7 linked regions of the Homo sapiens genome follow. The protein of the gene in region 2 interacts with the protein of the main gene of each other region in a pairwise test. Each region holds a gene or a part of one and is shown on either strand. Other genes may lie near its edges.

Region 1 (2,928 bases), on a different chromosome or scaffold from region 2:
AACTATATTATAATGTCATATTTTTGTGATCTAGCTTTTACTGTAATAGTTACCAAAGAAGAGCGCAAATAAAAAGACAAATTTTTGCTTATGACAGGTTTTTCGCTATCAATTTACATTAATAATATTTAATCTCTTTCTACATTGGACATCAAGACGCTTTATGGCCCTCTACCTGTTTTACCATTACATTTTCTTTATTGTGAGGCAATGATTATGTGAAATTTTTGCAGGGCCGCCCTCTTCCCCAGCACACATGCTCAACTGCACAAAAAGTTAGAATTAATTGGATCAAGCAGTGCATAATCTTTCACATTTTATTTTCATTTATTTATTTTTTGAGACAGGGCCTTGCCCTGTCACCCAGGCTGGAGTGCAGTGGCACAATAGCTCACTGCAGCCTCGACCTGCTGGGCTCGAGTAATTCTCCTACCTAAGTCCACCAAGTAGCTGGGATCACAGGTACATGCCACCACCCCTGGCTATTTTTTTAAGTTTTCATAGAGACAGGGTCTCTCCATGTTGCCTAGGCTGGTCTTGAAATCTTGAGCTCAAGGAATCCTCCCGACTTGGCTTCCCAAAGTGTTGAGATTACAGGTGTGAGCCTCTGCACCCAGCTTGTTCTACATTTTATATCAAATTTGGTAAAAAAGCACTTGATATTAGTTTTTTTCTGTTTAAACTTACATAATGATGAAGGACATTAATGAGCACCTCTTATCTTGCCACTGAGTATTTGTTTCCTGTAAGAGATGTCTCACACTTTTTTCTCAACCACACACACACACACACACTTAAGGTAGTAGGGTTTAGGAAGCACAATTATAATTTGACATGAAGTGTGAGTCTTGGGTTGATCTTTTACATTTGATTGTCTAAATAATAACTGGAAATACACTTGCATAAGCATTTGGATTTTTATGGACTCTTTATTAGGGTATTAAGATATTGAAAATAATACACGTAAACCACAAAAGAGTAGCATTCCATTTTCTTGAAGTGCACATGATATTATGAACAATACAAATGCATTATTTTTATCATTAATAGTTTAATCATTAATTATCTCATAAGTCAATGCAGAGAGTGAAATTACTATGAATTAAACTTCTGTTCACAATGTACAGTATTTTGCATATGTTGACTTTACTTAATTGTACATTTTTGTTTCCAAAGTTAATGTTAAATACCTGGTGCATAGGTTGTTGTCAAGCAATTACTCTCATTGTCTTGTCATACATGCTAACATTTTGCTAAATATAAATCTACAAGTATCACAGCTGCATATATTTCTGAAGTGGTTAGAACAGAGGAGGATGCTGGAAAGTTGAGTTCTTTAAAATCTTCGTTCAAAACAAGAGATTTTCATCTATGTCCTCTATAAAAAAACAAGAAGCAAAATGACACTTTTAGAAAGTAGCCAGAGTAGTAGCACAAACAATATTAGAGTTGGGGGATTAGAGAAACCATCTAATAAGGCAGTATAATGGTGATCCTCAACTTTGGTAGGACAGCAACATCACTCATGAACTTTTACAAATATGTATTTTTAGGCCTCACCTCTGGACTCTAGAATCAGAATCCCTAGGGGTGGACTAATGGCATGTAGACGTTTAGAAAACTCTGCAGGTAATTTGGCTGCAGGGTTGAGAACCACTGATAGAGGAAGAGCAGGTTAACGGGAGGTCCAGCCAAGAAGTGCCCAGTATACTAATCTAGAAGGTGAGCTGAAAAATAATGGAAATAAATAGAAGTGTAGTGCTAGGTTATTCCAGTTTTTAATTGAGTAGCTTGTGAAAGAAATTGTCGCCATACCTGTGGAAGAAGACAGCATCCTCTAGCAAATATAAGATCACTCCTTACCAACATGGCCCACCCTAACAAACTATTATACTACTCTGTGTGGGCACTAGGTAATTTTCCTGCTAATAATCTTTATCTAGCCCAGAGAATGGGAAAGATTATGGACTTTGATTTTTTTTTTTTGAGTACTGGCTTCATATGTAAAATGGAGATAATAGCTTCATTAGTTATACGTTTACTTATATTTGCACCCATAGCCTTTGTCTTCTTTCTGTTGCTCAGATAAGAGATTGTCCTTTTTCTTGACGTTAAGGCTAATTCCTCTACCTATGCTCAAGATCTCTTCTGACCTTCACAAGATTCTCCTTTTACTTTCCTCTTTTTTTCTTACATCCTTCTTCCACCTTTCCTTTTTTACTAGACCCTTCCATTAGCATTTAAATATGTTTCATATTTAGCCTCTAGAACAGTGCCTGCATTTATGTAGACCATCTGTAAAGATTTCTCTCTCTCTCTTTTTTTTTTTTTTTTTGAGACGGAGTCTCGCTCTTTCACCCAGGCCAGACTGAAGTGGCGCAGTCTCGGCTCACTGCAAGCTCCGCCTCCCGGGTTCACGCCATTCTCCTGCCTCAGCCTCCCGAGTGGCTGGGACTACAGGCGCCCGCCACCACGCCCGGCTAATTTTTTGTATTTTTAGTAGAGACGGGGTTTCACCGTGTTAGCCAAGATGGTCTCGATCTCTTGAACTCGTGATCCGCCTGCCTCAGCCTCCCAAAGTGCTGGGATTACAGGCGTGAGCCACCGCGCCTGGCCTGTAAAGATTTCTTGAGCAAATGAATGAGTAAATGAAAGGAGTGCTCAAATCTCTTTTATTCTAAAAAATGCTCCCCTTTTTTAGAAAATGCTCTGTAGCTTTTCTAGGTCTTTCCTGCACTCAAACATCCACTCCTTACCCTTTCTAATCTCCCTTTTCTTCTCAACCCATAGAATGTGACTTCCATGTCTACCATTCCACCAGAACTACTCTAACCAAGGCTACCCAGGATATCCTTATTTCTTTCAACTTCTTTGACATCTCAGTCGCATTTGGCACTGTTAATCTCTTCCTCCTCTTTGAAACACCTC
Region 2 (4,126 bases):
GGTGGAGGTTGCAGTGAGCCAAGATGGTGCCACTGCACTCCAGTGTGGGCAGCAGAGTGAGACTGTCTCAAATACAACAACAACAACAAAAGTTTTGCTAATCTGATGTATGATGAGTCAACAATCAATAATTTGGCAATTTCATGACTCGAGTGTCAAAAAGATGTACCTAAACACACCGTTGTCTATAGAAAATGAATAAAAAATTAGTGATTTTATTACTTTATATGAACTTCAAAAAGGGGCTGGGTGCAATGGCTCACGCCTGTAATCCTAGCACTTTGGGAGGCCAAAGCAGTGGGGATTGCTTGAGTCTAGGAGTTTGAGACCAGCCTCGGCAACATGGCAAAACCCCATCTCTACAAAAATTACAAAATTAGCTGGGCATGGTGCTGGTGCATGCCTGTAGTCCCAACTACTCAGGGGGCTGAGGCTGGAGGATCGCTTGAGCCCAGTTGGAGGCTGCAGTGAGCTGAGATCACGCCGCTGTACTCCAGCCTGGGTGACAGTGTAAGACCCTGTCTCATAAATAAATAAATAAAGTTAAAAATGCTGCTAGTTAAAATAGAAGTTAATTTCCTAAATGCTTTCTTCTGTCTTTGGTATGAATATATTTACCTACGAATATATATATATATATTTATGATCTTCTGCTTAGGGTTTAAGATTCCAACATTGCACTTCATTACTATTCTTATTTTCTCTAACAGTTTTGAAAATTATGAATGTGTTGTGTTAGTAAATTTCTTTCTGAGGAAAACTGGACTTTTAGACCTTAAAGGTGTTCAAATTTTGTTTTTTAAACAATACCTCCCACAGTGGTAGACTTTATCACTGTATAAAAATGTACAGTGGTTTTATTGACATGTACATTCCAATATGTTTACAGCTGCAAGATAATGAGGCACACTCAGTATTGCACTTCATTAAAATTTCAGGCTCAAACTTAACCTAGAAGTTTAAATGAAATTGCATTTGTAATTTAGTAATTCTTATACAGGACAAACATTGATATGTTTATATACAGTGTGATACTTATTACATTTATATGCTGTCCTAACACAATGTTTTTTTTTTTTTTAAATAACAGTCTAGGAAATAAACCAGAATATTCCTCTTTTTATCCCCACCCGTGATGCAATTGTACAGGATTACAAAAAGGCAGTATACAATAAACAATGATTATTTTTCTTTTTTGCTTGAAAGCCAGCATCGTTCTTAGTCCATGGGCATGGCGATTCTTTTATATCAATTATCTATAAATGTCCAATGCTTCACAGGCCAATGACGGTAATGGCCACATGCAAACACCTCACAAGTTTGATGTCATTTGTTCAAAAGAAGATAAACCAAAATAATGGGGAAACTTTTCATAGCAAGAATTATGTACATGGTATTTGGTATCCTTCTTGCACTGTGAATGGTTCATTTTCATGGATGTAAAAATGGTCCCGTCCTTATCCTGAGCAGAGTTTAAACTTCACCGCATCCTCTTGGGGGATGAAGGCAATTTTTCTCTCTGTAGACAAAGGATCTGCGTGTTCTAAAAAGTGTGGGCATTTCTGCACACTCCACATCCCAGAGCAAACTCTTCCCCAGTGGGTGGATGAACAACATGGAGTGGACATTCAGTTCCTTCTAACTGCTTGCCTTTGGGACCTGTATAAATTTGAAGGAGGCAAAGGAAAATAATGTTTTAAGAATACACACATATAAACCTCACAGAAATATAAATCACTGATAGGTTATTCAAAGAAATAACATGACTATGGTTATACAAATATAACATTTAGAAATTTTTCTTCTGATCACAAAAGTAAAAAATGTTCACTATAAAAAATTCAACACAGATATGTACAATGGAAGAAGTGATGGGGTCCCTTACTCACTATATCCTGCCTAGAGAGGATCACTTCGAGCTACAGATCTTTTTCTATTAATAAATGCATCAGATATATCATTTTAAAACAGAGTAATGAACAAAAAAGGTCACAAAACCCCTCAATTTAGTCTGGCAGAACATTATTTTTCTGAATAGAAAACAGGGAGATTTTTGTGTAGAATGTTTTTCTATAAGTAAAAACATTTAAGTTTAAAGAAGCCATGTTTTCCCTTTTATTTTTACTGATGAAAAAGCCCACACTGGTAAAATGGGAAGGCCAATGATTCCTGTAATTTTTAAAAGTACCTGAAGGATATTAGCAGGAAAATGAAAGTTATCAGGTTAAAAACATGAACAATGTTATAAAATACAATGTGGAAAAAACACTTTGGGGAAGATATGAATTTGTTGATAATAATCAAAGTAGGCCTATCAAATGTACCAAAAACAGTATTTTAAAAAAGAAAATTATTATATTAATGTGCTTCACGTCATGGGTTTCATATCATTTAGAAAAGATTTTTAGTTCCTTTAGAAACCAGGAGGCTTACTTTGTCAGAAAAACACGCTAGGCTTATACTTGAAAGCAGAGTCCCTATTTAATAGTAGATGAAGGAATAGGAACTCTGCATTAGTTTTCTACAGCTAGTTTTCAAAATAATAAATCTAAATTCTGATTGTGCTTGAGAGAAAAATATCACGAGATTGGATGGAATGAGCTTACACTGATCAATGAGGAATGACGTCTCATTTACTTTACCTTTTCTAGGTTTAAAAACATTTCTGACATAAGAGAAGGAAACCATGATGGATAAAAGGCTAGCATTTATAAAGCTCTTAGACTGCACAGTATAATACCCAATAAATGTTGGCTATTACTACTATTACTGAACAACCACAAACTGAGGCCTGATCTAGAGGAATAAAAAGTAAGTTCTGTACAAGAGTAAGACCAAGACATTAGAGTGTCAAACTGAAGACAGCTAATCTCAGAGAAGTCAACTTCAGGTTAGAGCTAACAGGCATGAGAGTGGCAATGAGTGCCACCTCAGACAAATGCAGGCACAGACCTCAGGATGGGTCAGCATGGGAGGATGCCAGAGGTTTGCTAGAAAGTTAATTATTCCTGTTAGAAAGTAGTTCAGTAGCTCCTGCTCCAAATCACACTGCAGATTGGTGCCCACCCCACCAGTGGGTGGGGGAGAGTGCGCAGGATGGGGACACTCAATGGCAGATCTAGTTCAGATACACAACATATCAATGGTGGTGACACAAACTGCAGCCCTTGGGTTTTTTCAAGGAAAAAATGAGTCATTTACTCAACAAATATTTACCGCATGCCTAATATATGAAGGGCATTCTTAGGTACTTGGGATTAAAGATGAAAAGTGCATGGCTCCCATCTTCAAGGTGTTCACAATCCAACATGGTGGTGAGAAATAAAAATAGTGAAAACACACCTGCAAACATCTGAGTGCTTACTACTGAGGCACTGTTCTAGTATATCAGCTACTTAACCATTTAACAGTCATAGGAGGCAGAAACGATTATCCTCATTTTGTAGATATGAAACTGAAGTAAAATTATTTTTTCTGATTCTTAGATACCTCATCTTTAAAATAGACACAGCAATACCTAACTCATGGGGTGCTGTGAAGATTAAGTATCCTGGCACGAGAAGGTAGTCAATAAATATTTTAGAAAGAAATGGATAGAGGGATTATGCTATGGTCTGGATGTTTTTGTGCTCCTCCAAATTTATATACTGACGTGTTAATGAAAGGAGTTAGTTTGCCTTAGGTAGATAGCAAGGGAAGGGTCCCCAGAGAGCCCCAGGTCCACAGGTCAGTGCCTCATCCCCATATAACATAAAAAGCAGTTGGGGAAAAAAAGTCAAGCTGCAGGCACCGATGAGGGAACTAGCACAGGGCATTGTGCCTAAAGACATGCCCACGGCTGCACAGACAGAAAAACCTTCAATCAGATAAAGGACAAGACCTGGGATAGAAATGCCTTTGTCCTTTGTATAGTCAGGGGGCTCTCTCCTTTTGTGGGCATAGGCACAGTGGGCTCCAGTGGGTTCCTGGGCCAGGGTCCCGGGCCAAGCTGAGTCACGCTGCGGGCCAAGACAGCCCACAGACTAAGCACATTCCTTCCCCTTTCCAGTCCATAAAAACCCTGGGCCCCAGCCTCACGGGAGCATCCTGTTTGGGCCCCCCTCTCTGCTGGCAGAGAGCTTTCTTC
Region 3 (4,157 bases), on a different chromosome or scaffold from region 2:
ATCCCATCACAGAAATTTTGTAGCAGTCTTCAAAGATGAATCAGTCTAGTCCAATTATACAGATAACTAAACTGAGGCCCAGAGAAGAAACATATCCAAAGGGATCCAGGAGAGAAACAAGAAAACAAGGGTGCCAGTTGTGGCAGCAACTCACAGTAGAACCCATTCTGTCATGTTAACCGGCTTTAAGGATTTCCCCCACACTCTAAGTAACCTACTATAACCAAGGATCATCCTGGAAAATCCCTCTGCACTCTCATTTCTCTCTGAAACAAGGTGGCTATTAGTGGGTGTGGATACAGGTCCTAAACTTCCCAACGTGATTCAGTAGCTATGTCTATAGTTTTACCACAAGTTACTGAAAGGGGAAAAAAAAATCTCACAAAATTTTAGAGCTAGGAAGGATCTTGCTAACCCACCTCATTTTACACGTAAGCAAGCTAAAGAATATACAAGTTAATAAATTTGTCCAAGGCCACCAATTGCAAAGTTGGCAATAAAAGTTTGCCATAACAGAAATCCTCGGATCAACTCAAGGCCACATTTGGTGACTCCTGTCAGGCTGCAAGGCCAAAAAGAACCACCAAAGAGGCAGCAAAATATTTCCTGAGGAGTACAGGCAGCTTTGCACTGAGTTCCAATTTTCTAGCCGAAAAAGCTATTTTTGAAGTGTGGTTTCTGAGGAAGGCTGACTCACCGAAAAAGTGGGGAACAATATACTCACGGTGGACTTCTCTAAATTGGCGATGTTTCTCTGTGGTCCTTAATCAGCCAGAGGGATCACTGCAAATATGAACCCACCCAACCATTTTCTTTTCATTGTTCTTAAACTAAAAACAGAATTCTTTAAACATTCTACAAGGCTTCGCAGGGTCTGGCCCCTGCCTGCCTCTGCAGCCAGGGCCACTGTATATAGGTGTGGAGTTGGTGCCTGGCTGAGGGGGTAAGTGGGGCCTGGAATCCAGGTCACACACTCCACAAGCCAAGGCCAAAATTTGGCTTTGGCTGTAACTGCTAGGAGAGGAAGAAGTGCCTTAGTAATTAGCATGAGGGAACTCTCAGGGCTAGCAGCTGGCCTACCTGCCAGGTTTGTCACACCATCTCCTGATTGCACCCCCATCCACTCAGGGTTTCTATCTACCCCAGAACTCACCTTGCCTTTTGCCATCTCAGGGTGAGGTGAATCAGGCAGAGAGGATACTTTGCACACAGGCCTCACTCCACCCTCCTTCAAGTCTCAGCTCAGCCAGCCTTTCCTCAGTCTCTCTGACCAGAGCACAGCTCCATATGCCTTTTCTTTTCTTTCCTCAAGAAAGGTTCTTCCTCTGTCACTCAAGCTGGAGTATGATGGCATGGTCATAGCTCACTGCAGCCTCTTTCTCCCACACTCAAGTGACCTTCCTCAGCCTTCTGAGTAGCTGAAACTACAGACTACAGGTGAGTGCCAGCTTGCCTGGCTAATTTTTAATTTTTTTCTTTTCTTTTCTTTTTTTTTTTTTTTTGAGACAGAATCTCCCTCTGTCGGCAGGCTGAAGTGCAGTGACACAATCTTGGCTCGCTGCAACCTCTGACTCCCTGGTTCAAACAATTCTCCTGCCTCAGCCTCTCCAGTAGCTGGGATTAAAGCATGCGCCACCACACCCAGCTAATTTTTACATTTTTAGTAGAGACGATGTTTCACCATGTTGGCCAGGCTGGTCTCGAACTCCTGACCTCAAGTGATCTGCCTGCCTCAGCCTCCCAAAGTGGAGAGCTATTTTTGACTATAGGCATAAATGTGGGCTTTGGACACAAATTCGTCTTGAGTAAATGAGAACAGTGTCTCCTTGGCCTAAGGATCATGGAATAAAGGAGACTGTACAGTAGGTAAAACTGAACAGGAGCCTGTCTCTTTTGTTACAGAAAGGTCATAGTGAGATTTTCCTAACCAACTGAATTAGGAAGGCCTAGAGGATTTATTGTATTCTTGCCATTCCCTAAATATTTACTGTATCCTGTGTAATTTGGCACAAATTAAACACTCGCATCCAAACCAACCATTGTCTTTTTAACAGTTGGCATGTTAAAAGTGTTCATACTAAGACATGCCTTAGGAACCTCCAGATTTTCTTTTGTTTTTAATAAACAACAGGTTGGACTCGGATTAGAAACCATAAATCTGACGCTTCCCACAGTGACGGAGCTTCAAATAATAGTTGTGTACAAAGCTCTGATTAGACTTCATAAAACCCTTTTTAACTTTTCATTATGGAAAACTAACATATACATAGGTAGAGAGAATAATGTATAATGAATCTTCATGTATGCTCATCACTGCTTTCACAATTAGCAACCCATGGTTACTCTTAACAACCAATACTTTTTGGGGAACAGAAGTGGAAAGATATTTGTTTACAAACTGTTCTTCTTGAATGATTTTAGAAAATTAAAAAAAAAAAAAAAAGGCTGGGTACAGTGGCTCACACCTGTAATCCCAGCACTTTGGGAGGCTGAGGTGGGGGGATAACTTGAGGCTAGGAGTTCGACACCAGCCTGGCCAACATGGTGAAACCCCGTCTCTACTTAAAAATACAAAAATTAGCCAGGCATAATTGTGTGTGCCTGTAATCACTTAAAAATACAAAAATTAGCCAGGCATAGTTGTGCGTGCCTGTAATCCCAGCTACTTGGAGGCTAAGGCAGGAGAATCGCTTGAACCTGGGAGGCAGAGGTTGTAGTGAGCCAAGATCCTGCCATGGCATCCAGCTTGGGCGATGCAGAGAGACTCTGTCTTAACAAAACAAAACAAACAAAAGCTACTGAGAACTGTCACATGGCAAATTCTTACAGAGCTGTGGAGAGAAGACAGGGGCTGGACAAATGCTAACGAGCTTGGTAACACAGACTTCCTTCTCACAAGTTTCCTGTCTATTTACCCCTCACTAACCCCCAATTTCTGCATTCTTTTTCCTCTGAGACAAGGAGAAGCTGCACCAATGAGATATGAAGCAGATTAGAAGAAGCAGGGCTTTCTGCCTTCCAGGTGTCTCCTTTAGCAAATTGCATAACGAGAAGGAAGGCCAGGAAATCCTATCATATATCAATGATGAATGCTTGCAAACCTGAAGTTGTTAGCCTGAAGGTTTTGCCTAAAATTACAGGGCTTGAAGGCATTCTCAGAAACAGGAAGCCACGCTCATTTCAAGAGACAGAGGATGGTATTAAGGGTGAAGGCATTCTCAGAAACAGGAAGCCACGCTCATTTCAAGAGACAGAGGATGGTATTAAGGGTTAAGTTTTCTGAAGCTGAGTGATAAGGATAGAATTCATTTGTCCAAAAAATAAAAAATACAAAATTTCCAATATTGATGCTTAATTAGATATTAAGTGGGTAGGTCAAGAATGGGTCTTGACCTTTTTGAACTGGATTTCCTGTACAGAGCTCTCTGTCCCTAAGCTGATGGAGAGCTTCTCCTTTCTAAGACAGGGGGCCAGGAATCCAAAATACACTCATTTATTTGCACACTTACCTAGAATCATTGTAAATCCTTACCTAGGGAAAGGAAACAGAAACTACCAACCAAAGGCCAAAAGTAGCAGGCAACATTGAAAAAAAAAAAAAAAAAAAAGCTGGACGGAGAGGGGAGAGAAGTTCAGATAAACAAAGTTACATAAATAGTATCAAAGGTGTGCCAGCCATACCTCTCGCCTGTCATCCCAGCACTTTCGGAGACCAAGGCAGGAGGATTGCTTGAGCCCAGGAGTTCGAAACCAGCCTGGGCAACATGGCAAAAACCCTTCTCTACAAAAAAAAATACAACAATTAGCCAGGCTGGTGGCACATGCCTATAGTCCCAGCTACTTAAGATGCTGAGGCAGGAGGATCACCTGAGCCCAGGGAGGTAGAGGCTGTAGTGAGCCATGACTGCGCCACCATACTCCAGCCTGGGCAATAGAGTGAAACCCTGTCTCAAAATATATATATATGTATGTATATACACACACATATACACACATACACTGTCAGAGGTTATTTAATGAAAAGCAATCCTTATTAAAGATTTATATTTACTTATTTATTTTTTACACGGCGTCTCACTCTGTTACCCAGGCTGTAGTGCAGTGGCGTGCGTTCTTGGCTCATTGCAACCTCCGCCTCCCACGCTCAAAAGATCCTC
Region 4 (4,046 bases), on a different chromosome or scaffold from region 2:
TTGTGGCATCTGTGTTTCTCTTTCTGCTCTGCCTCTCCCCATCTCCTAGTCCAAACATCCAAAGAAATAAATTACCTCCAGGAGATCGAGACCATCCAGGCTAACACGGTGAAACCCTGTCTCTAGTAAAAATACAAAAAATTAGCCGGGCATGGTGGCCGGCGCCTGTAGTCCCAGCTACTTAGGAGGCTGAGGCAGGAGAATGGCGTGAACCTGGGAGGCAGAGCTTGCAGTGAGCCGAGATCGCGCCATTGCACTCACGCCTGGGCGACAGAGCAAGACTCTGTCTCAAAAAAAAAAAAAAAAATTAATGACCTCTGCCCCTAACTGAACAAAGCCCTTCATCTAAGGCCACCCTTTGGTTGGCAGCCTTAGCCAGACATCTGCTTCTGGTCAAATCAATGTCTTGTCCACAGGGAGGCCCAGCGCTGTTTCTGGTTTTAGCTGGATGCAGGGTGTCAGACATGGCAGGTACTACGGTCTACCTGGCGGGTATCAAAGAGTTGGTCGACGTTCTCACAACAACCTAATAGGGACCAACCATGGAAGGCCAGTAGTAAAGGAGTTTGAAGTTCCCTTTCAGAAACCAATTAACAACCCCAAAGAGACAGTGGGTAACATAAAAGAGCAGCCATAAAAATATACAGTTTTAATAGAAATATTAAAATAATCATTACACTTCCTCTCATTGCAGAAACCATGAAAGAATATGCCTTTTGTAATCAAAGTAATTTTTTATCATGCAAAAAAGTATTTTGTTATGACATTCGTAAGTGGAGACTGTATTTCAAAACAAGTTTATACAGACTTCAAAAGGTCTAAAGTCAAAGTGAAATATATTTAAATATGATTAGTTACATCTAATGCAGCTGGCATACTCATATTCACAGTTTATAAAGTAAAAAAACTAAACTCTTCATGTCGGCTCTGAAATAGATGCATTTTCATTCATACATTCGCTAGTTAGGTCTGTTCTTCTAAGGAGGAAAGACGAGATATATGAGATATTTTTTAAAGAACAAACTCAACATATCAGCAGCAAATTTCAGTTAAACTAAATTGGAAACCAATGTTCTGTGTAACCAAAGTGCAAAGTCAGTTCCCCAGCTCAGAAAGAAAATTAAGAGTATAAACTGAAGGCTTAAGAGAACTTCAGAGAGCACACTGTGTGATTAATACATAAATATTAAAAATTATCCAATTTTTGATTTAAGAACAACACAGTTTGGATCTAGTCATTAAAACATATGCACAGGTGTCAAAGGCAAGTAACACTACCACCTAAGGTTATTCGGAGGAACTGTGAAGATGTAGCACGGACCTCTAAGGTGTCTAAAATCCCTTCTGATGGAAAGGTTATGGAACACTATCTGCCAAAAACACTGAAAGCACCACTTTTATATTTAGATCCAATGCTGAGTGATATAGTCACTGTTGGGATAGGTTTTTATTTGGGAAAATGGAGAGGATTCTCAAAACAGATTCATGGCTTGCATGCAGTGACACCCTATCAAGAGCCTGGAAAGACACCATGAAATCACCTCAACTCAAGTGGTGGGCCCACCTACTCATAGTCAGTGTTACACTAGCCAGCTCTAGGGCTCTGACAACATAATGAGTTTTGAGGTAGTATACTTTAAAGAAAAAAAGAAGAGTTTATTTTAAAGCAAATAACTAAACTGTATTTTAACTTAGCACAATTAACTGCAGCATATTTACTTCATAGCCCCTTAACATGTCACTTTTACCAACAAAGCTTTTTCCTTCATATTCTAATCACAAAAATTTCTCAACAATTTATAACAATCTGTAAATCTGACCTTGCAATAAATAGTCATAAAACGTTATTTTTATTACTATTATTATTTTTAGAGACAAGGTCTCGCTCTGTTCCCCGAGCTGGAGTGCAGTGGTACAATCACAGCTCACTAGCCTCAAGCGATTCTCCAGCCTCAGCCTCCCAAAGTAGTGGGATTTCAGGCATGAATCACCACACCTGGCCTTGAAACATTATTTTTAAAGCCTAAATTCCAGTTGGTATGGTACCAAAATTTAGTTTAACTTCAAAATTCACAGTACTGCCGAGAAATGGGCGGGTCCTGAGGTTCCAGAGAAGTGGGGAGTGAATTCATTCCTGGTGGTTTTATTCTGGCAGCATGCATGGGAGATCACATGAGTTAGAGGGCTGTGGCCTGGTATCAACACTTCAAGCTGTTGTACTTTTACTTCAAGTTGAAACTTTTAAAATACATCTGTCATACAGATGTACAAATATATGTAAATGCAAACACATATACACACTTTTTGACAAAAGAATAATGGTAACACACACGAACCATTTTTGTAAACAGATTCTATTTGGTTAATAGAAGTATTCCTTCCATCAACCTATCGAAGTCCAAACCAACTACGAAGATAGGATGCTCATCCAGAAGAACGGGAAGGATTTTCTTCCTCATCTTTAGAAAGTAAAACAAAGAAAAAAAAAAGAAAAAAGAGAGTATTAAAATTTCTCAATGTAAAATCTATATTTTAGAACCACTCTACAATATAAGCAAATAATGTCTTTTTTACTGATCACATGCCTTTTTTGGTGGGGGGGGGGGTTCTTTTTTTTTTTTTTTTTTTTTTTTTTTTGAGATAGGGTCTTGCTCTGTCACCCAGGCTCGAGTGCAGTGGCGTGATGAGACTTCAATGCAGCCTTGATCTCCCAGGCTCAAGTGATTCTCCCACCTCAGCCTCCCAAGCAACTGGGACCACAAGGTGTGTACCACCATGCCTGGGTAATTTTTTGTTTTTTTGTAGAGATGCAGGTCTCACTGTTTTCCAGGCTGGTCTCAAATTCCTGGGCTCAAGTGATCCTCCCACTTCAGCCTCACAGTGTTGGGATTGCAGTCACGAGCCACTGTACCCAACCATATGTCATTCTTTAGACACACTGCTTACTAAATTTCTCTTTTTAAAGGATATACTGAATTTCCGGTTGAGCCAACTTAACAGCTAATTTTCTATTTTAGCTTTAAAACATTGATAAGCAACATGAAGCAATCTAGAACTTAACCTTTAAATGGCTTTATTAAAGCAATCCAGCTATGAAAATTATGCAGAAATGATTATCTACAAACAATCTTACCAGCACATAAGAAATTCTTCCTCTATTCTGAAATACCATCTTCTCACAATATACTTTGATGTTATGAATCAATGTCTGTTCTTGAACATTATTTATTGTCTTTCTCTATTAAACAATTCCAAAATAAAATTTCCAGCACAACTAAATATTGTTGACGATAAGAGGATTTTAAAAAAAATTCTTTTAAAACAGAAGCTTATATACAACTTAGAATCTAAAACCAATAGATTTATGGGAAACCTTAAAACTGAACCACAACAAACAAAAACCAAAGTTTTAATCATTTAAAAATCATGTTTATTGAGGTACAACTTACTTATAGTAAAACCTGCCCTTTTCAGCATATAGCACTGAGTCTTGACAAATGCACAGTTACGTACCACCACCGACCAAGGCCTGGCACATTTTCATCTCCTCAAAGTTCTCCCTGGCTGCTTCTCCCACTCCTTGGCAACCGCTAACCTGTTTTCTGTCCTTATAGTTCTGCTTTTTTCAGTGTCATATAAGTAGAATCACACTGTACATAGTATTTTGAGTCTGACCTCTGTCAACTGGCATAATGCATTTGAGAATTACCCATGTTGCTGAACTGGCAGTGCATTCTTTTTTATTGCTGAGCAGTATTCAATTGCACGGCTGTACCAGTTTGTTTATTCATTTGCCAGTTGAAGGATAACTGAGATCTTCCTCGTTTTTAGCAATTTTAAAGAAAGTTTCTACGAATAATTGTGTACAGGTTTTTAATTAAATGTTTTGGAGATATAATTCATATACCACATAATTCACCTTTTTAAAGTGCATAATTCACTGGTTTTTAATATATTCACAAGGTTTGTGCATAGGTTTTTGTGTGAATACTGGTTTTCATTCCTCTTGGATAAAGATTTAATTTGGTATTACCCTTCCAGACACC
Region 5 (4,157 bases), on a different chromosome or scaffold from region 2:
TATCCAGGTATCTGCAAAGGACAGAGGACAACAGTCCAGACCACGCCCAGGCAGAGGGAGCCTCCTTCCCACAGCTGGGTGATGCGGAGGGACCCAATCTTTATGCAGACTCCTAATAAGGAGTGTGCAGAGGACTGGGCACCCTGCAGGAGGGCAGAGGTGTGCCCTGGCAGCGCCCCCAGCAAGTTGGGGAGCCCTCTACAGGGCAGTGCCCCCGACAAGGCCTGAGCACTAACCCTGAGGACGCTGGGCTGTTTTCTTAGTCAGTGGGGGGGTCCCTTGGGCAGGAACGCCTTATAACCCCAGATCCTACCCAGTTGGAAGGATGACGAGCTTCCTCCCTTTGGCGGGGCCCTGGGGATGTGGGACCTTCTCGCCCTGGCCAAGAAGATTCAGGGATCAAAGGTTGAGTCGCAGGAGAAAGTCAGGTGTGGGGAGGCCTGCTGCAGCCCAGGGAATCAGCTTCTCTAGGGACACAGTCCTGGGGATGGAGCCCTACCTCTGTCAGCTGACCTAGCCCCGCCAGAGTTCATGGCCTCTCTGGGTCCCTGGGCTGAGCCTGACACTCAGGTGGGAGGAGGTAGCTGACTCCCCATGCCCATAGCCCTGGTCATATCCCCAGTCAGACCCCTGCTCTGGAGGAGGCCCTATCCGCCTATTGTAGGAAGCGGCAGGAAAACCAGCCACAGACTCCGGCCACAGGCTGAGTATCTTAACATCAGTGTGGACCAAAAGCTACTTAGGCCCACAGTAGGGAGGTGACAACCCTGCTGGATCTAGAGAGTCCCAGGCAGCACCTGGCCTGGCCATGGGCAAGTGGCAGAGTCCCAGGCTGTTCCTGGGGGCTGGGGGCATTCCAGTCCGGACAAATACGCTATGTAGGAGGGTGGGACTGCACAGAGCTCAGGGCAGGGCAGAGTGTAGCCAGGAGGGGCCGGGGCTTGAAGGCCAGGCTGGAGGCTCAGACAGTGCCTTTGTACAGAGGACCCAGGGAAGGGGCAGGGCCAGGTCTGATCAGAGTCATGGGATGCAGGCAGGTCAAAGACTGAGAGGGGAACCCCAGGGAAAGGGCATGGTGGGCCTGGGCTGAGGCAGCAGGCTGAAGGGAAGGGGCTGGATCCCAGACAGAATCTGCAAGAGATGGGATGTGGGGACTAAGGAGGGGGTGGAGGGGCTGGGATGACCCTGGACATTTGGCGTGACTAGTGGGACATCAGCTCATCCAGCTGTTCCAGCGGGCCCAGGGCAGGCCTGCTCCCTCCAGGGCATGGGGGCTGCAATGCAGCTGAGCTTGGAGAGGTATGACCGGGACCACCTGGTGGACATGAAATGCCCAGCTGTGCCACCAACTGGAATTGTGGTCACTGGATCTTGGCTCTGGTTTGCCCTCAGGGGAAGCATCTCCAACCCTACATCTGAGCGGTGGCCCTCCAGCCAGCATGCTCTGCCCGCAGTGCCTGCTTTACTCCTCCTGGCACCTATCACTGAGCGCTGCTTCATCTCCCACTAGAAAGGAGCCGCCTCCTGACCCCAGAGCACCCCCGGGTCCAGCTGCAGCCTGGCACTTGGTGGGCACAGTCACTTCAGGCTGACTGGACAGTGCCCGGGGCTGGTGAGGGGTTCTGCTGTGAGCCCCCAGCAGGAGAAGGAACCCGGCATGTCACCTGCCCAGCATGGTCATGGCCTCGCCCTCGTCGCTGCAGCCCAGCAGCTGCTCCATGTTGGCGTCCAGGACGGCCAGGGCCACCTGCAGGATCACCTTGATGCCCTCATAGAAAAAGCAGTCGACGATGACCACGGCGCTCTCGAAGGGCATGACGCTGAGGAAGAGGGTCAGGAACCAGGACAGCGAGATGCTGGAGATCACCCCCAGGTCCTGCATCTTCTCCGAGAGCTGCGGCAGGAAGTCTCTCGTGAGCTCTTCGAAGATGCCTTGGTCCACCAGGGCTCCTGCGGGCAGGATGAGCGAGGCTGATGGTGAGCCCACCCTGTGGCCTGGGTGGGCCCTCACCTGCAGCGTACGAGCCCTGGCCACTCCAGCCCTGCCAGCTGTGCAGTGAGGGCTGAGGGAGACTTGGAGTGCTGGGAGAAAACAAGGACGAAAAAACCCTTCAAGTCTCTCTACAGCTCCCAAACCACTGGGCGAAATAACTATTTCTTCTACTACACTTGAATTTTATTTTGGGGAAATACTGATTTCTCCGTAAGGCATGAGAGGTAAACAGCACCCTCAATGACTCTGTCCCATCCTGATGATTGTGAATAGACGCAGCTCTGAAGGACCCCAAGAGCGGTAACTCCAAACACCAGACAGCAGGGGAAGGACAGGATAACATGCTTAAATATGAACCTAATTAAACACTCTTGCAAGTCCATTTCCACTTCATAACAGATTTCACTGGATATGAGTTCAGTAAAGTTGAGCATCAGGTTACATGGGGGATATATACTCTCTAGTTTTGATGTTTGAAATTTTCCATAATCAAAAAGTTGACAGGAAGTTAGATGGATAGGAATTTAGGCTCTGAGGGGACTTTTATAAACCACCGAATGTGTAATACTACCCTCTAACTCCTAGGGAACCCACGTGAAGCCTGGAGCTTGGCCTGGGAAGGGCTGCCACCCTCATGGAACCAGCAGGCACCTGGAGACCCAGGCGAGGCAGCACCCGGGGACACTCACCCACCACCCTGGTGTTGTAGTAGTCGGGCAGCATGCGCTCGCACAGGGCCACCAGGAGCCAGAAGGCCTCCTCCTCACTGCCATAGAGCAGGAGCACCGAGGTCACGATGTTCATTGCCTGCCGGGCACAGAGACAGCCGGGGAAGGCTTGCACTGCTGGCCAGCAAATAAAACTGTCTCTCCCCACCCCTCCCAGCCACCCCTCCCTGCAAGGGCCCACATGATCTTCTTTTTGTTGTTGTTATTTTTATTATTTTTCAGGTTCTCGTGGTGAAGATTAATGGCCTCCTCCTACAAGCAAATCTGCCTCTTCAGGAGGGCTGGGCATCCGGTAATGAGAAACTGCCCCTACCCAACTCTGGGAAATGTCAAAAGGCAATTTGTAGGAAACTGATGGAACAGAGAGTCTGCCAACTCCTTCAAACTGGGTCAGAAGGCACTGGGAAACCAGAGAAGGTGAACATCAACACATCACACTTCTGCGGAGTGGTGTTGGGTGTTGGAGGTGGGATTATGACCAAGCTGATGTGGAGGTGAGCCACAAGGCCAGAGCCCCACACCAAGGCCACCCACTCGGTGCACAACTAGGACCACACACAGCCCTAGCTGCTAACAAGACCTTTAAGGCAAACAGAAAGCCATATGACTTGGCCAGGAAAATGCCTAGATTTAAAATCAAAAGCTGCGAGAAATGCTAACCTAAAGTACAATTAGATACCCTCATGCCCATCACTCTAACAACAACAGAATATAGCAAGTGTTGATGAGGATGTGGAGAAATCGGAACCCTTGTGAACTGCTGGTGGGAATATAAAATGGTGCAGCTGCTGGGGAGGAAGTATGGAGTTCCTCAAAAAATTAAAAATAGGCCAGGCCACAGTAGCTCACACTTTGTAATCCTAGCACTTTAGGAGGCTGAGGAGGTCGGATCACTTGAGCCCAGGAGTTCAAGACCAGCCTGGGCCACACAGTGAGACCCCATCTCTATAAAAAATACAAAAAGTAACTGGGCGTGGTGGTGTGTACCTGTAGTTCCAGCTACCCAGGAGGCTGAAGTGGGAGGATCGATTGAGCCCAGTAGGTGGAGGCTGCAGTGAGCCATGATCATGCCACTGAGATCCAGTGTGGGCAACAGAAGGAGATCCTGTCTCAAAAAAAAAAAAAAAAAAAAAAAAAGCCCAGGAATGGTGGCTGGTGGCTCACGCCTATAATCCCAGCACTTTGAGAGGCTGAGGCGGAAAGATCACTTGAGCCTAGGAGTTTGAGGCCAGTCTGGGCAAGACAGTGAGACCCCATGTCTAAAAAAAAAATATTAGCTGGGTGTGGTGGTACATGCCCTGGGAGGCTGAGACCGGAAGATCCCCTGGTCCAAGGAGCTTGAGACCAGCCTGGACAACATAGCAAGACCCTGTCTCTAAAAATAATAATAATAATTTAAAATAAATTAAAAATAGAAATACTGGCCAGGCACAGTG
Region 6 (4,626 bases), on a different chromosome or scaffold from region 2:
GAGGGCAGGGACAGCTTCCGGGTCCCCAGCACCCCACGAAGGAACTAGCACTAAAAAGGGCTCATCCCTGCTGATGGGGGATGGGAAATTTTATCCTTGAAGGGGACTCTTCCCCTTGTGACCCATTTCAGGGTTCCCAAGAGGGGAGGGCTGTGGGGCTTCCCCACAGGGCAGCACCGGGAATCTGTGGCAGCAGGAACAAAAAGAGGAAGTTGAAGTCTTGTTGGGCCCTGGAGTTCAGCTCTCCTGTCCTAGACAAGCAGCCCTGCCAACATGGGGGATGAAGGCCCCGGGGGGTAGGCATGGTCTACAGGCTGTCCATGACAGGGCTCAGGTGGATCCTCATCCTGGCACCTGCTACCACTCCACCTCTCCCAGACCACGTCCAAAATCCCAGGCTCCACCCTCCGGAGACACAGACCTGTAGCTCACCCCAATCTAGGGGAGACATTGCTGTTAAGGGAATGCAAAAGGTACAGACAGGGTGGGGAAGTCAGTACCTAAGAGACCAGCCTGGGCCACGTGGCAAAAACCCTGTCTCTACAAAAAAAAAAAAAAAAAAAAAAATTAGCTCGGCGTGGTGGCACGCGCCTGTGGTTCCAGCTACTCCAGAGGCTGAGATGGGAGGATCACTTGAACCCAGGAGGTCGGGGCTGCAGTGAGCCATGTTCGCACTCGTGAACCTGCACTCCAGCCTGGGGCTGTAACAGCAAGAAAAGAAGAAAAAGAAAGAGAAGGAAGGAAGGGAGGGAGGGAAAGAAAGGAAAATAAAGAAAGAAGAAAAGAAAAGAGGCCAGGCGCGGTGGCTCATGCCTGTAATCCCAGCACTTTGGGAGGCCGAGGCAGGCGAATCACGAGGTCAGGAGTTTGAGACCAGCCTGGCCAACATGGTGAAACCCCGTTTCTACTAAAAATACAATAAATTATCTGGGCGTGGTGGCGCGCGCCTGTAATCCCAGCTACTCGGGAGGCTGAGGCAGGAGAATCTCTTGAACCCGGGAGGCGGAGGTTGCAGTGAGCCGAGATCGCGCCACTGCACTCCAGCCCGGGAGACAGTGCGAGGCTCCCTCCCAAAAAAAAAAAAGAAGAAGAAAAGGAAAAAAAAGTGAGAGAGAGAGAGAGAGAGAGACGAGAAAAAGAGAGAGAGAAAGAAAGAGAAAGGTTTCGGGTCTCTGACGGATGAGAAGGAACAAGACGGGGATGCAGTCCTACCCACTTCGACTCCACCCCCTCTCAAGACCTTCACGCCTAACGCCTCCCTACGCGCAACAAAACTGGCCGCCAAGGGAGCCCGTCCATAGCCCTGGGACGTTAGAGAATTAGAGCAGGAGCTCCGCCCTGTTGTGGGCAACTTGCCCTTCTCAAACATGGCCGCCACGGCGCCTCTGGAAGGGAACCGCTCTGGGCCCCGCCTTTGATCTCGTTGGTGGGGCTGGGGGATGAGAGCTGCACCGCGCGGGACAAGTCGCCGGCGGCGCCCGACGGAGCAGGTGATTTCCCCTCCTGCCCCCGGCCCAGGGCTAGGAGAGTCGCGGAGAGCGCTGACCCAGGGTACCCGTCCGATGTGTTCCCCCACGGTACCCCCCCCGGGGCCCGTCGGACCCCCATCTCTGATTCTCGCCGTGGCCTGTATCAAGGCACATCCAGTTTGCTCAGGCCTGCCTCGTCATGTGTCCTCCAAGGCCACAGCCGCATCCCTGTGCCTTCGGGCCCACTATTCTGGACGCTTACGGGTGTCCCGCTAGCGGGTTTAGGGAGCTGCTGCTTCAGGGGTCGTCCATCATCGCGGTCCCACTTCCTGTGCTCGCCCTCCCTGTTTGTGCTCCCGCCTGACTTTGGATGCAGGGATCCCTTGTTCCCCTCAATGCCCTTGGTGCCTCTAAGGTCTGACTTGGGTATCAGAGGACAATGATATCCTCTGGGGCCTGCGTTATGGGTCCAGGGCCTCAGGAACCGGGCTTCACAGGGGCTGGGAGAAGCAGTGAAGACCTTCCATGCTAGACCCCTTGCTGCCTCCCTGAGAAGTTCGCTAGGACTCCTTTCACACTAGCTCCCAGGATTCCTCCTCCCACATGGCCTGCTCTCCCTCCACTTTAAGCACCTCCCCACCCCAAGGGAGCAGCATAGTACTTCTTACCCCACTCTCACTTAAATTTGTCCACAGTGTCTCTATCTAGCATCTGGAGGGTCCAGGCCTGTGCTGCCCTTGGGAAGCTCCCAGGCTAGCTGGGAGCAGTGAAGGTGGGGCAGTTAGGGTTGGCTGCAGAAAGGGAGTCCTGCAGAATGAGATTTGGAGAGGCAGAGGGACAGATGCTCTGGGCTGGGAGAGTGGTGTGAGCAAAGATTCTGAAATAGACAATATAGCCAGCCAGGCAGGAGAGGAGATTCAGAATATAGGATGGGGCCACACAATTTGCATCGTGAGAGGTGATGTAGTGTGGTGGTTAACAGTGAGGGTTCTGGATCCAGACAGCCTGGGTGTAAATCTGCCATTAACTTGCCTTGTGACCTTGGGCAAGTTACTTAACCTCATAGTGCCTTCATTTCCTTTCAGGTAAAATGTGGATAATACGGCCGGGCGCGGTGGTTCATGCCTGTAATCCCAGCACTTTGGGAGACCGAGGCGGGTGGATTGCCTGAGGTCAGGAGTTCGAGACCAGTCTGGCCAACATGGTGAAACCCCGTCTCTACTAAAAAATACAAAATAAATTTGCCAGGCATGGTGGCATGCGACTGTAATCCCAGCTACTCAGGAGGCTGAGGCAGGGGAATTGCTTGAACCAGGGAGGTGGAGGTTGCAGTGAGCTGAGATCGCACCACTGCACTCCAGCCTGGATGGCAGAGCGAGACTCCGTCTCAAAAATACATAAATAAATAAAATAAATAAAATAAAATGGGGAGAATAACAGTATCTACATTTTAGAGTTATTGTAAGGATTAGGTAAGTTAATACATGTAAAAGTGCTTAGGACAATGCCTCGTAAGCAGAGGCAATAAATGCTAATATTACCATCATCGGAGGCATTTAGGCAGGACTCATGACAGGATGACAGTCACATTTGGTAGACACCATCAACCAATGATCTCTAATTTGCGGCCCCCAAGAAGCAATGGGGTTCTGTGGGCTACATCTGGAATTTGAAATGTCTCATGGAAATCATGTTCTTACCCTGGAGAAGGGTGGCTGCTTAGGTGCTACTTAGGAAACCAGTCTGGCAGACCAGATCTTCCCCAACTCAGGGGCTATGCGGGGAGAAGTATTAGGAGCCCCTGAGCAGGAAGGATGTACTTAGGAAGGCTACCGGGGATGGGGAAGGGTAAAAGAGCTTAGAAGCCTGGGTGAAGTTTGGGTAGACCAAAAACAGGAGGAGGGAGGGAGGATGTTCCCTTGGAATACAAACTAGAGAAAAGCTTAGGGGAGCAAGTCTTTTTATTTGGGGACAGTGAAGAGTTTCCTAAAAATTCCCTGGCCCCCAGGCCTTGGCTAAAAACCCAGAAGCATGAGACACATCCCTGAGAAGCTTCTTCCCTAGAAACTGGGCTCTCAGGCCGGGCACGGTGGCTCACGCCTATAATCCCAGCACTTTGGGAGGCCTAGGCGGGCAGATCACCTGAGGTCGGGAGTTCGAGACCAGCCTGACCAACATGGAGAAACCCTGTCTCTACTAAAAATACAAAATTAGCCGAGCATGGTGGCACATGCTTGTAATCCCAGCTACTCAGGAGGGCTGAGGCAGGAGAATCGCTTGAACCCAGGAGGTGGAGGTTGCGGTGAGCCAAGATCGCGCCATTGCACTCTAGCCTGGGCAACAAGAGTGAAACTCTGTCTCAAAAGTAAAATAAATAAATAAATAAATAAATAAATAAAATTAAAAAAAAAAAAAGAAAACCTGGGCTTTCAGCCAAGTTTCAGTCACCACCACACAGGTGGCTCATGCCTGTAATCCCAGCACTTTGGGAGGCCAAGGTGGGCAGATCACCTGAGGTCAGGAGTTCGAGACCAGCCTGGCCAACATGGTGAAACCCCGTCTCTACCAAAAATACAAAAAATTAGCTGGGCGTTGTGGCAGGCGCCTGTAATCCCAGCTACTCAGGAGGCTGAGGCAGGAGAATTGCTTGACCCTGTCAGGTTCACACCATTGCACTCCAGCCTGGGCAACAAGAGCGAAACTCCGTCTCAAAAAAAAAAAAAAAGAAAGAAACTGGGCTTTCATGCAGCAGCCATGGGCCTTTGTCCCGGCAGAGGCTACCATGCAACTGACAGCCCAGGATTCGAGGGTGATGTAACCCAGGGTCGAGGTAGGTCCCTGGAGGCGGTTCTACCCTGAGGGAGCTGCATGATGGGATCTAGTATGCCTGGGCTGAGCCATTCTGCTCTTCCTCAGGGCCCATGAGGGCTCTGGCGCAGGTGGTATGAATTCCCCTGGTAGGCTGGGGCTTCTCAGTCCTGCTTTCCAAAGTGACCCCTGTGCTATGAGCAACTCTGTTACCACTCGGGACCAGGCAACTGTAAGCATAGAAGGTAGCCCTGTCCCAACCCACTTGAAAGTCTTGATATCCTCCCTTCCCCAGAGTAGCCCCTAGAATAGATGCTGAACTAGGTGACCTGGATTTAAATCTGACTAC
Region 7 (4,157 bases), on a different chromosome or scaffold from region 2:
TTCCGCCTCTTGCCTGGATCACCTCTCTTTGGAGACAAAAGTACAAAAATCGCTTCTCCACGAGGTAAAGAGTTCTGCGGACTTCACTAGACGCAGCGCCCTCCAGGTTGGGATTTCGCATTTCTGCATTTGTTCCCCAGGTGTGAATCTGGCAGGGATAGGACTGGCATAAGATTCCACTACAGAAGGGATAGAGCAGTGCCCCTACCCCCAGCCCAGATGCCTCCCAGAAGCAGTTTTAAGCTCAGTGGTTAAAAAACGACCCTTTCGCGAGTTTGTTCTACGTGTCTTTCGCCACCCTACCCCTGCCCAGTCTTCGGAAACCATCCACTCAAGAAATGTAGGCTGTTCTGTGTCTGCGTTTACAGATTCGCCACTCACCTCCAAGGCCTCGTATGTACAACCAGAATTTACTAAATCTGCGGTCAACATCCTATTTTGACATGCATTTAAATTACACCCTACTTTTGGCCAACGCCTCCCGCCTTACTCTGTGAAATTTAAAGAAATTCTTAACTCCTTATTTAAAGAACCTCCTTTTCCTGTTCGCATTATTTCCAACTTCAGAGAGAATCAGATAAATATGATGAGAAAAGTGCATATGTTTTCCTGAAAAAAGAAAATGAGCGCAGAAAAGTGAGACTTGGCTCATAGGTAGCTAAATAATTATAAATAAGAAGAAAAAAGTAGCTCCTGGAAGTACTATAAAACAAATTTAAGGGGGGAATGGGAGGTGGCTTCCATTAAACAGGCTGCCCATATTGGAGTGGGGACGGGCTAGTCTTCCTTAACCCTTAAATATCATCACCTATAATAATTAAATTATTTTCAAACTGTAAACTGCTTTCAAACACCATAGTTAGCGTTTTTACCAGGTTTATTTTACTTGTTATACACAGACGATACAAACGAGCAAAAAACAAAACGTTTCTCAATGGAGTGTGTTCTTGTATAAATTATTCAGTTCACAGACAAAACGAAACAAATATAAAAATCACAACATTAGATTTACAGAAGAGCCAAAATATACACACGTTTAGACCCTGAATTCCTATTAGGAAAAATCCCCCCATGGACTGGAATCTAGATTGAATATTGTGTATGATGCATATTTCACATTAATTTTTAAATACAAAAAAGTATAGGTTTGCTACACAACATTAGAAATCCTACTAATCTATTTCCAGGGGGATTAATGCTCCTTATCAAATATAACAAGACTTAGGGGAAAATCAGTCTTACTTGCATTAATGCTAGTGTTCTCCCAAGGAAGTCAAATTTCAGCTGTTTCTAGGTGGTGGGGAAGTCATTTTCAAAACTAAAATGCAGTAAAATATACAACTCACACAATTCATCTTCACTAGACTACACTATAGTTACCAACAATTCAGTCATCTATATCATTAATAGAGTATTCATTACAAAGATTTACAGCATATAAAGGTGAAGGGGTACTGAAAGATATTCAGAAACAGTTTGTCAGCATATTTGGCACCTGCACAGACCAGTAATGGATTTGGCACTTTGGGGAAAAACAAATAAGGCAAAATAATATTGCTGATGTCGAGCTATTCTATTTAGAAGGTGGGGGGAACATACAACTCCAGTTGACTTTGCTTTGCAGGCATCATGCCACTTAATCGACTTGCCTATGAACAGACACCTATCCTTTAAAGGTGTTTGGGTGGATTCTCCTTAGCTATTTGTGTGCATTAGGGCACATAGTAATTATTTCATGCAACGGATTGAGGAGAAGTGGGAAACCCATCACTACTGAGTATTTCATGTTTCTAGAGCCTCTTAGAATATTATCTCACAAGAAAATTAAAAGAGAGAGAAGAGAAAGTATGAGAGGAGAGAAAGAAAAGCAAAGAAAGGAAAGGAAAAAAAGGTTAAGCATGAACTGGTTTTGTGCCTTGACGAGAATAAAAACTAGCCATTCGTTACAATAAATTAACACTATGTACAATCATTTCACAGGCTTTGTTCCACTAAAATTATTAACATCCCTACCATCCATCCATCCATCCATCCACTCGGGGATAAGAAAGGACGCGCTGGGTGGGTCCAGGTTCTAGAGTCAACATCCTATGGTTAATGTGGAGGCCGAGACTTGGCGGGTCGGAATCGCTGCTGCCTGACAGGACTGCCCAGGTCTCCTAAAGGTGAAGAGTTTCATTACAAGAAAGAGAAGTAGGAGGTAAGAGAAAGACGAGGGGGAGGGGAATTGTAGGAGGATAACTCCACAGAAGAAGAGTAAGTAGGAAAACCAAAAGGTTTACAGCAAAGTTGAAGGTCGGTGAGCTAATTGCAGAGACTGCTGTGCAAAAAAGGTTAAAATCACGCTCGGAGACCTGCACTTATTCGCTGCAGACGGCCATCGAGGGTCAAATAAAATGAGTGGGTGCGCAAGGAGGAGTGTGGGGAGGCGGAGCTGGGGAAGAGCTGTGAGGGGCTGGCTGGGGGTCCGGGCCGCGGCGGGGCCGGGCGGGCAGGGGCGGCCTAGCTGTGCGAGTAGAAGCCATAGTAGCCGCTAATGTCCTTGGCGCAGTTCTTCTCGCAGTCCCGCTGGGCCAGCACCTCGCTCTTGAGCGGGGACGAACTCTCGGACACGGGCGTGTCGGCCGGCGAGATCCGCCTCCGCTTGGCCTGCTCGTAAATCCCCGAGTCGCTGGAGTCGATGGACTTGATCGAGGAGGGCGTCTCGATCCAGCTGGAATCGGACAGGTCCTTGGGCTTGGCGTCCTCGGCGGCGCCGGGCGGCAGCGGCGAGCGCTCGGCGGCCAGGCCCTCGGCCTCCTCGCCCAGGTAGGGATTGGCGCCGGCCATGCGCGCGGCGGCCGCGGCGCTGTTGGGCCAGCAGGGCAGCACCGAGCCCGACTTGGTGCCGCAGTACTGCGGGGGACTGCGGGCGCCCCAGCCCGACGGGTCGGCGTAGTAGCCGAGCGGGCGGCCAGTGCAGCCTGCAGCCTGCAGCGGCAGCGCCTTCACGCCCGCCGCCGCGTAAGAGAGCAGCGTGGCCGCGTTGCCCGCGAAGTCCGTGGCCGTGTCATAGGCCGAGGCCGCGAAGTCCAGCCGGTTGTTGGCCGGCGTCACAAACCAGCGTTGCGGCGAGGGCGCGCCCGGGTCCTCGGCCTGCTGCGGCGACAGCAGCCCGTTGGTGTGCGGCACGCTGCGGTCCGTACCCGGCCCGGGGCCCGCGCCCGCGCCCGGGTGGAAGCGGGCCTTGGCGTAGTTGCTCACGAACTGGTCCTGCAGGAAAGAGCCGGCCATGGCGTAGCGGGCCCCGGGCACGATCTGCGAGCGCGGCGAGTCGTTGGGCGAGGGGGTCAGGCGGTCCATGTCACAGCCGGTGTAGATCCTGCGGGGTAGGGAGAGAGAGAGAGAGAGCCGAGGGGTGGCGCGGAGGTCCCTTGGGGTGGGGGTGGGGGCAGAAGGGAAGGCCACCTCCACTTTTCGCCCACCCCCACACCCTCCATCTACAAACTTGCAGTCCAGGATTTCCTGGAGAATACAAGAGGCCACAGACCTCTATCATTCCCAAAATAAATCACGGAATTATAGAGGAGCCAATCTGTCTATGCAGGGACCTGAGCAAGATACAGACCATCAAGGGAACGACTTCCCTCTTCTCTTGCTCTCTCTCGTCAAGTGTACTGGGGTACTGAGAGAGGGGCACAAGCAAGGACTTTCATCCCACTTCTCCAACATATGTGTGCACATTAAGGCAGATTTACCTAGGGAGTAAGATGCTCTTTGCCCAGTGGGCCTTTCCTCTGCGGTCAGTTTATGAGTGAAATTTCTAAGCAAGGTACTCACTCCTCCACCCTTTTAAGACCTCCTGTGTCCATTTGATTGTTCAGGTGATATCTCTCCTTTTTCTAGATTGTTTCAGAAACCCCTAGGAAAAAGCCGCGCACGCAGTAATCATGAAAGACTGGCCTTCACCCGTGTTCTGGAACCCGAGGTTTGCTGCTGGAAGCCTCCAAAGTACTTAGTGTCTATTGTTTCCCCTGTGTGAAACTTTCACTCCCACCTCTACTAATACAAACAAGAATTACTACTCTGAAACAGTAGTCATCAATCAGAAATATTCTCTTAAGAGAAAAGGTGTTCTTTACTCTGACCTTCTTTTCCTAGCTTTTGGTCCGTTACCC

What was found.
Region 1: the proteins of MYCBP2 (region 2) and SPARCL1 interact in a two-hybrid assay, tested with the Homo sapiens proteins (one large-scale study listed by BioGRID and IntAct).
Region 3: the proteins of MYCBP2 (region 2) and ARL6IP5 interact in a two-hybrid assay, tested with the Homo sapiens proteins (one large-scale study listed by BioGRID and IntAct).
Region 4: the proteins of MYCBP2 (region 2) and RGPD8 interact in a two-hybrid assay, tested with the Homo sapiens proteins (one large-scale study listed by BioGRID and IntAct).
Region 5: the proteins of MYCBP2 (region 2) and TBC1D9B interact in a two-hybrid assay, tested with the Homo sapiens proteins (one large-scale study listed by BioGRID and IntAct).
Region 6: the proteins of MYCBP2 (region 2) and CUEDC2 interact in a two-hybrid assay, tested with the Homo sapiens proteins (one large-scale study listed by BioGRID and IntAct).
Region 7: the proteins of MYCBP2 (region 2) and TBR1 interact in a two-hybrid assay, tested with the Homo sapiens proteins (one large-scale study listed by BioGRID and IntAct).

What each region holds. Positions count from the first base shown.
Region 1 is NC_000004.12:87,472,426-87,475,353, forward strand, and holds the end of SPARCL1 (SPARC-like protein 1 isoform 1 precursor), read right to left. Parts: intron 1,379-2,928; coding exon 1,350-1,378; 3' UTR 910-1,349; downstream 1-909.
Region 2 is NC_000013.11:77,043,835-77,047,960, forward strand, and holds the end of MYCBP2 (E3 ubiquitin-protein ligase MYCBP2), read right to left. Parts: intron 1,660-4,126; coding exon 1,544-1,659; 3' UTR 823-1,543; downstream 1-822. UniProt on the Homo sapiens protein: Atypical E3 ubiquitin-protein ligase which specifically mediates ubiquitination of threonine and serine residues on target proteins, instead of ubiquitinating lysine residues.
Region 3 is NC_000003.12:69,091,106-69,095,262, reverse strand, and holds part of ARL6IP5 (PRA1 family protein 3), read right to left. Parts: intron 1-4,157. UniProt on the Homo sapiens protein: Regulates intracellular concentrations of taurine and glutamate. Negatively modulates SLC1A1/EAAC1 glutamate transport activity by decreasing its affinity for glutamate in a PKC activity-dependent manner.
Region 4 is NC_000002.12:112,367,754-112,371,799, forward strand, and holds the end of RGPD8 (RANBP2-like and GRIP domain-containing protein 8), read right to left. Parts: intron 2,460-4,046; coding exon 2,425-2,459; 3' UTR 616-2,424; downstream 1-615.
Region 5 is NC_000005.10:179,873,238-179,877,394, forward strand, and holds part of TBC1D9B (TBC1 domain family member 9B), read right to left. Parts: intron 2,801-4,157; coding exon 2,683-2,800; intron 1,951-2,682; coding exon 1,665-1,950; intron 12-1,664; coding exon 1-11. UniProt on the Homo sapiens protein: May act as a GTPase-activating protein for Rab family protein(s).
Region 6 is NC_000010.11:102,429,390-102,434,015, reverse strand, and holds the start of CUEDC2 (CUE domain-containing protein 2), read left to right. Parts: upstream 1-1,441; 5' UTR 1,442-1,490; intron 1,491-4,626.
Region 7 is NC_000002.12:161,422,573-161,426,729, reverse strand, and holds the end of TBR1 (T-box brain protein 1), read right to left. Parts: intron 3,362-4,157; coding exon 2,503-3,361; 3' UTR 860-2,502; downstream 1-859. UniProt on the Homo sapiens protein: Transcriptional repressor involved in multiple aspects of cortical development, including neuronal migration, laminar and areal identity, and axonal projection.